2 linked regions of the Homo sapiens genome follow. The protein of the gene in region 2 purifies or fractionates together with the protein of the main gene of each other region. This does not show direct contact. Each region holds a gene or a part of one and is shown on either strand. Other genes may lie near its edges. The genes, in order: FAM114A2 and KIR3DL1.

Region 1 (3,922 bases), on a different chromosome or scaffold from region 2:
GGTGAGCCGAGATCACGCCACTGCACTCCAGCCTGGGCAACAAGAGTGAAACTCCATCACACACACACACACACACACACACACACACAAAGAGATAATAAAACAGCTCAGTCTCTGACATTTGTGAAATATCACACTTGTTGAGTGCCCACTGTGGGTATAATTTTATTCTGGGTTTTCTAAACTGAAGAATTCAGGTTTAAAATTCAGAACACCTCTAGAAATACAGAAAAATGTCTATTTCTCAAATGGAGATATCAATAGCAACTACCTATAAAATAGCTCTCCCTCAAAAAGGTCTTTCACTAAAAACAAGTACAAAAGAAAGCATCCTTTTTCAGCAGTAGGAACCCACAAGATCTTGTTCTTTGATTACAGGATTGAAAAATTCACATTTGTACACCTAGCACTGATTTCAGATTCATAGTAATGCCATCTATAAAAATTACAATTTCACATTTCAGAGGCCTGCCAACCTGGATATCTATGCTTAAAAAAAAAAAAAAAAACTATCAAAAGCAAGTAAGGAAAATATAGCTTGTCCTTAACACATTTCTAAGGTATTATGCAAAGGAAAATAAAAATTGTTTCATAGAGGTTTCTACTTCTTTCAGATCAAATTAATAAAGTCTCTCTTAATCACAGCCTTTTAAAATCTCAATAGTAGGAAAAGACACATTTACCCTAGCAATACCTGAACATTTCACTTATTAAGGTTTTAAGTGAATTGGAAAGGCATATATTAGTAATTAGTGGTAAATCTTAGACACCAAAAATTTAAAAGGAAAATAGTACCAAAAGTGTAGCTGTTAACAAAAAACTAAAACACTGTAACTACCCCAAATAAAATAATGAAGCACATACTATCCAAAAACCATCACCATAATCCAGCAAGTTCCAAAGTGATCCCTGAATTTACCTACTCATCTGTCATGAATGTTTATGTTTCTCTATGTCTACTGGATCAAGGAATCTTAATTCTTTTTCAGTATATTTTATGTGAAGAGTAGACAATTGTTACTCAGAATTGGGCCTTTCATCATTTCACTAGTGGTCCCTAACTCCATTAAAATAAATAAATATATATGGGGGGGTGGGGAAGATGAGAAAAAAAGAGTTAGTGAGTCATATTTACCTTATGTGAGACCTAATCTAAAATTTGCCAAATTCAGGGCTGAAATCTGAATAGGTGTATAAAAAGAGTTGTTACTCTCTCCTTCATATGTATACCCCATTTCTTGAAAGAAAAACCTTAAATACATTTCTAGGTTAAGGATTTAAAGCTGCCAAACTGCCATTGTACAAGAGGCTGAACAGACAGTAGGCAGAGTGACCAGTTTCTAAACTTTGCCCTCAAGGGATACAGGTTCAGACACATCAACCAAGCTTGAGGCAACAATTCAGAACTGGTGACACCAGCCTTTGTAACCAGAAGGCAACTGTTTTTCTGAAACTTCAGAAATATTCAAGCTGGAAAGGGTGAAATTTGTCTTTAAAAAGGAATATTCAAAAACTTTCTGATCATATTAAGACAGAATATAGGCAGAGTAACATTGTAGTGCTGTTGGTATACCTTTTTAAACCAAATTTATTTCTCTTCCTTGCTTACTAACTGACTCCTGCCCCAAAGAAGATTACGTAGAAACAGTCTTTATACTAATCTATGTTATGGCTTTGCTTTGCTATTTTTTTTTTTTTTTTTTGGTCTAAGTAAGATATTAGGGCTCGTGTTTACAAAAGTAAATGAAAGGATCAAATAACATGATTAATACATTTTATTACAAAGGTTTTAGAAGATGAGGGGCAGAGCTAACAAATTACCTTAATCATTAAAAAACCACAAAGTTGGAGAATTTTTTTAAAAAGAGTGGATACCAAAATAGCTTTTAGGAAGACGACAGCTTAATAGTCTCTTAAATTGCTGAAGAGAGCAAAAGAAAGCTTAAGATCTGGAGGATAAAAGTTATATCAAAAACATGCTAAAGAATACATTAAAACAAACAAAAAGGAAAGAGGAAAAAATAAACTATGCCTTAGAAGTTAAATCCTATCATAAATGAACATCATTTCTAAAGGACTATGGCCCACTTCAACACTCAAACAAAAAAATCCTCATTGCTAAAACAGCTTCAACATTCCTTTGGAGTTTGCTGTTAAAGAATTTATCCTGCATATATGGTAGACACGAAACACATCCTGAAGAGACTCAGAATATCTGCAAACATAAAACTGCTTCTCTAAATTGCATTTACTGGCCTTGAATCCAGTAGAGTAGGGTTCAGCTATGACATGAAGTGTGTCATCCTGGGGAGGGGGAGCAATTTGAAGAAAAAGGGCACTTTGCTACAGTTAATTCACATGGCTATAATAGTCTACAAGTTTCTCCTCAATGCCAAATATCTACTAAGAATTTAAAAAAGCAGATGAAACTTTCTATTTCCAAGAATTCATGTGATAAAGGGTAATCATCACAGAGTTTACATATGCTCAGTTTTCTTAAAGCCATAGATTTTATTCCAGAAAGGAGAAAGTACATGGCATTAATAAACCACACATGCCATGAATTTTAGAACACTAAATTATTTTTCTCTGGCTTATCAACCAGTTATATCCATGGGCTGCAAATTATATCCATGACAAAATTGATAACATTTTGCAACATGTCAAAGAAAGACCAACATTTTTGCCTGAGTGTCCCACTAATCTTTATCTAGAGTTATTATTCTTGGACTTTCTACAAAAGTTTCTTTTCAAATAATTTATGAATTACAACAACTGGAAAGAATACTGTGAGAACCTGAATACTTCAATCAAACACTGAAGGCAACAATCTTCCTCTTTAAACCATCTCTCCTGCCTGAATTTTTATATACTAAAATAACCCCACTCCTTCATTTCTGCAGGAGTAGCCAGAATAAGGTGGCATTCCTTGGCCGTCACAAGTCCCAGGTCAAAACGTCTCCATTCTTCAATGTTCTAACAAAGGTTTCTGGCCCTGCAGCTCATGTCTGTGTGATTCAATCTTGTTCTCAATGAGAGAGATCTCTAGCACAGGTAAGAGTAGCTGAAAGGCGTCCTGGATGTAGGAGGCACTGTTTGATGCCTGCCAGGATTGAAAAAACAAGAAAAAGAAAATATTAGTTATTTAAAAGAGAAGATATACTGTAAGGCAACAGGGGAACAGATTAATTTTTGTAATCTAACTGAATTCATAGCCTGGCAAGTAAGAGCAGTGACTTGGCCATTTTGGTAAACTCTATTATAGGGAGAAGAATTTAGCTCTTAAGATGATATGAGCACCAAAAGAGAATGTCAGCATTTTGTACAACTTGCCCATCAGACATGGTAGCTTTTCTTTGGCAACATGGTCAGACTTGGCATTCAAAGCTTATTTATTCCTTTATTGAGTAGGGTAGATTCTGTCACAATATTGTGGTCAATTACTGAAAGAGGCTTTCAGAAGGCTATAAATCCTACACCTATAGAATTTCTAGCCCATTATGATAGCTCTTTTTCCATGGACTCAATGCGATCAGTGAGCACAATAACTGCTCACACACATAAACATCTTTCACACATATACTGCTTTCAAAGATGACAGTATAGATATATTTCTATCTTGAACAACATTTTTCAGAAGTGTTAGAGAATCATTACCCTCAGTTTGCTGGACTTCATTTATACTGAAAAGCCCTCACCTTTCAAAAGAATATCAACAGAGAGCTCATTAAGATAAAAATGTATAATTTCGAAGACAAGAGTGTTTCAAATCTGTATCCAAAAAAAAAATCCACTAAAAATAATAGGGAGCCCATATCAAGTGATATTACCTTTTTAAAATTTATCAATGGCAAGTACTATTTAAAATTCAGTGTGACATTTAATACTCAATTTCCCACACAAAAGGGACCTCAGATATCGT
Region 2 (3,922 bases):
CAGAGTCCTGGAGAGAGGGAAATGCTGAGTGAGGGAGGGAAATGCTGAGTGAGGGAGGGTGCTCACGTTTTCCAGGACTGTTTGGGAATAACACTAGCCACGAGGCTGGGCCGAGGAGCACCTACCTCGCTGTTGGCTGTTCTGTTCCCTGCAGGCTCTTGGTCCATTACAGCAGCATCTGTAGGAGACGGAAGTCAACAAAAGAGCTCGGAGGGCACTTCTGGGTCCTCATTTCATAAGCAGATACCAACAAACAGGGGGAGGCCATAGGTGCCTGAGGTCCCTCAGTTGCCAACAGCAGACTCAGACATTCTATCTCTCTGAGCTCAAGGACCCATCCCATGAATAGCTCTGAGTTCCCATCCCATTGATTCTGTCTCCCACTTTCTGCCTGTCATGGAACCTTCTCCTGGATGTGAGTGGCTGCAGGGGACATGAGGATACAGTTCAGAATCAGGCAACGGTCTGTGAGCTGAAGGCAGGGGCAGGGAGTCTGGTGCTCTCTCTAGAAAGTCCTGCCTCTGTGGCTCCTGTCTTGGGCCAGGGACCATCCTGCCAGTGAGGAACACACAGCTGTGTGCTCCCATCCTGCTTCCCCACATGGCCCTGAGCTCTCTGGCCTGTGCCCCGTGAGACTTACTTTTTTTGTTGGAGCACCAGAGATGAAGGAGAAAGAAGAGGAGGAGGATGAAGAGGATGATGACCACTGAGGTCCCAATCAGAATGTGCAGGTGTCTGGGGTTACCTGGAAGAAGAGGAGACACCAGTAAGAAGCTAATCATAGCAGTTTCTCTATATGAATTGTCTTGCATTTCTTGATTGACAGGTAACCACTTACAGCATCTCTTTCGGACAAGCACCCAGATGGCGGGAGATCTAGCTTCCTCCTGCTTTCTCAGTTATAGCTCTCATAGTAACCATGGAACGTGCTGAGGATACAACTACTTTAGTTGAGATGTTTGACCCCTTCAAACCTCACATTGAAATTTAACCCCCAGTGTGGGAGGTTGGGCCTCTTGGGAGGTGTTTGGGTCATGGAGGTGGATCCATCATGAACAGATCAATGCTGTCCCAAGGAGACGGGGTTAGCAAGTTCCCTCTCTATTAGTTCCTGGAGAGCTGGTTGTTAAAAAGAGCTTGGAAGCTCCATTGCTCCCCCTCCCCCTTGCTCCCTCTCTTGCCGTGTGATCTCTGTGGTCTCTGCACAGACAGACCCTCCTTCCCTTCTGCCAGAGTGGGAGCGGCCTGAGGCCATCATAAGAAATAGATGCTGGTGCCATGCTTCCAGTACAGCCTGCAGAACGGTGAGGCAAACCAATCTCTTCTTTAGAAGTTACCCAGGCTCAAGTGTTCCTTTAGAGCAACAAAAATGGACTAAGACAGCAAAGTCCTGAGATCAGGAGGATTGTCCCAGAACAGCCTGGGCTGTCTTCCTGTTCTTCCTGGAGGAGGACGTCATGCAGTGCTTTAGCTGAGTGCTTCCTGTGGCTCCAGGGTACAAAACCCAGGCTGGGCTGCTTTCTGGCTTCCCCCAGCTACACTGCAAATGGGGTGACTCCACATGTCTCGAGCAGCTTTTCTGAGCCTTGGGGAACTGGCTCACATTGAAATGTAGGCTTCTGTTGTCACTCGCTGCTTATCTGTTAGTAATGAACCTGCCTATGTAACGTATTCTCTGTGTGTTCTGTCTCCCTGGAGTGACGGTGAGTGATAGGAATTGGCATAGGCCCAGGTGCAGTCCAGGAGGTGTTTAGAGTCTTCTCTGGGAAGACTGGACTGGGATTGATACACAGCGAATGTGCTTTAGGATTTCTACATCCACGGCATTCTTGAGTTAAACAACTTGCATTCTCCAAGAAAAGGAAACAAAAGTGAAATCAATATAAAAAAAGCGAAGTAGAATTCTCTTATGTCAAACAGCCAGAAAATAGTGTTGAAGCCCGTGTGAAATGTGCTACTCTTTGTGATCTCGGGAGACACATGTTAGGCTGCTGTTCTACCTCAGAGGCTGGGGGAAGGACCACCCCCTCGACTATCTATTGCTTCAATACCACCTGTCCTCCTGTGAATTAGTAGGAAAGGGGAGCAGGAGCTAGTGCTGGCACTGATCTCTGATTCCAAGATCTGGACTCACTCCAAGGAGTATTAGCATTTACCTCCCCATGATCTATCTGTATTTCCACAGGTGATTGGAAGTAGGGGTGAGATGGGGGATTTGGGTGAGGGGGCAAGTTTTTTTTGTGATGACCAGAGCACTTTCTCTATTCCAGGATTTGTGCTGGAGGATTCAGCGGGCTTTCACATTTTCTATATGATCTCATGCTCACAGAAAGCCAAATACGGAAGAGGTTTTAGGCTGATTGCCTAATGGATAAGATAAAGGATCAAAGAAGTAATTATAGAGAAATAGAAAAATGATGATGGGAATTCAGGTGCCTTTGTCATTCGTGTGTGTTTTATTATATTTATGCATTTCTTATTTTTATTTTTTGAGATGGAGTCTCCTTGTGTCACCCAGGCTGGAGTGCAGTGATGCGATCTCCACTCACTGCAACCTCCACCTCCTGGGTTGAAGTCATTCTCCTGCTTCATCCTCCAGAGCAGGAGCTGGGATTACAGGGATGCACCACCATGCTCGGCTAATTTTTGTATTTTTAGGAGAGATAGGGTTTCACCATGTAGAGATAGGGTTTCTCCATGTTGGCCAGGCTGGTCTCGAACTCCTGACTTCTTGGAATCCACTGGCCTTAGCCTCCTGCAGTGCTGGGTTACAGGAGTGAGCCACCGTTCACAGACTTGTATACTATGCTATAATAGGTCCCTTCATTTCCACCACCCCTCATATATCTGTCACTCCTTTGCCAGGTATTGATTTATGTGTAGGAGGAATAAATCTCAGAAAGAAATTAATTTAGCAAGGATTAAACAACTAGGAAACTCAAACCCAGCAAGCCCTCCCTGCAAATGATTCTACCTCCCAAACATAGCTTATATCCATCTGCTTCATCCACTTAGGGTCTAAATCAGCACCACATTTCACCAGTGGGGCGGCAATTGCCTTTTCCACTGTCTCCTAGATTCCAGTTACGCACCTGGGCCTCCCTTATTTTCATGTCAGTCACTATTAATCATGTAGGGATTCCTGGCTACCCCGAGGTGAATCCAATGGCTGTGAGTGTCAAACACACACTCCTTGTTGCTCCTTAGTTTCCTGTGTACCCAGTGTGCTCTCCGTCTCTCCACAGTCGTCTTGTCATTCTCCCCACCTCATTCCCAGCATTTCAGGCAGAGCCTCTTCCTTCCACATCAGATTGTTTTCAGCTTTCTGCCTTCACGGCTGACAGCTGTGTGTGGAAAATCCTTCCGCCAATCTTTCAGGGGTTCAATCCGTGTTTTTCATTAATGTCACAAATATCTGATTAGTGAGACCTTCTCTGTCACCCAAAATTATACACTCAGCATTATCTATTATTTATTTTGAATTCTGGCTGGGCAAAGTGGCTCACGCCTGTAATCCCAGTACTTTGGGTTGCTGAGATGGTCGGATCACTTGAGGTTGGGAGTTTCAGACAAGCTTGGCCAACATGGTGAAACATCCTCTCTACAAAAAATATACAAAAAGAATTAGCCGGGCATGGTGGCAGTTGCCTGTAATCCCAGCTACTCGAGAGGGTGAGGCAGGAGAATCACTTGGATCCAGGAGACGCAGGTTGCAGTGAGCCAAGATCGTGACACTGCACTGTAGCCTGGAAGACAGAGGGAGACTCTGTCTCAATAAATAAATGAACGAACAAACAAATAGATTTCATGCACAGATGCTTCCCAATGGATCATTCATTTATTGGTCCACTTGTGCACTCATTTTCTGTCCTCCCATTTAACCATCTGCAATATCAGTGTCCCAAGAGCAGAGGCCAAATGC

What was found.
Region 1: the proteins of KIR3DL1 (region 2) and FAM114A2 purify together in Homo sapiens (affinity purification with mass spectrometry; 3 studies listed by BioGRID and IntAct, with this or other methods). This does not show direct contact.

What each region holds. Positions count from the first base shown.
Region 1 is NC_000005.10:153,990,008-153,993,929, forward strand, and holds the end of FAM114A2 (protein FAM114A2), read right to left. Parts: intron 3,104-3,922; coding exon 2,969-3,103; 3' UTR 141-2,968; downstream 1-140.
Region 2 is NC_000019.10:54,826,184-54,830,105, reverse strand, and holds part of KIR3DL1 (killer cell immunoglobulin-like receptor 3DL1 isoform 1 precursor), read right to left. Parts: intron 746-3,922; coding exon 641-745; intron 179-640; coding exon 126-178; intron 8-125; coding exon 1-7. UniProt on the Homo sapiens protein: Receptor on natural killer (NK) cells for HLA Bw4 allele. Inhibits the activity of NK cells thus preventing cell lysis.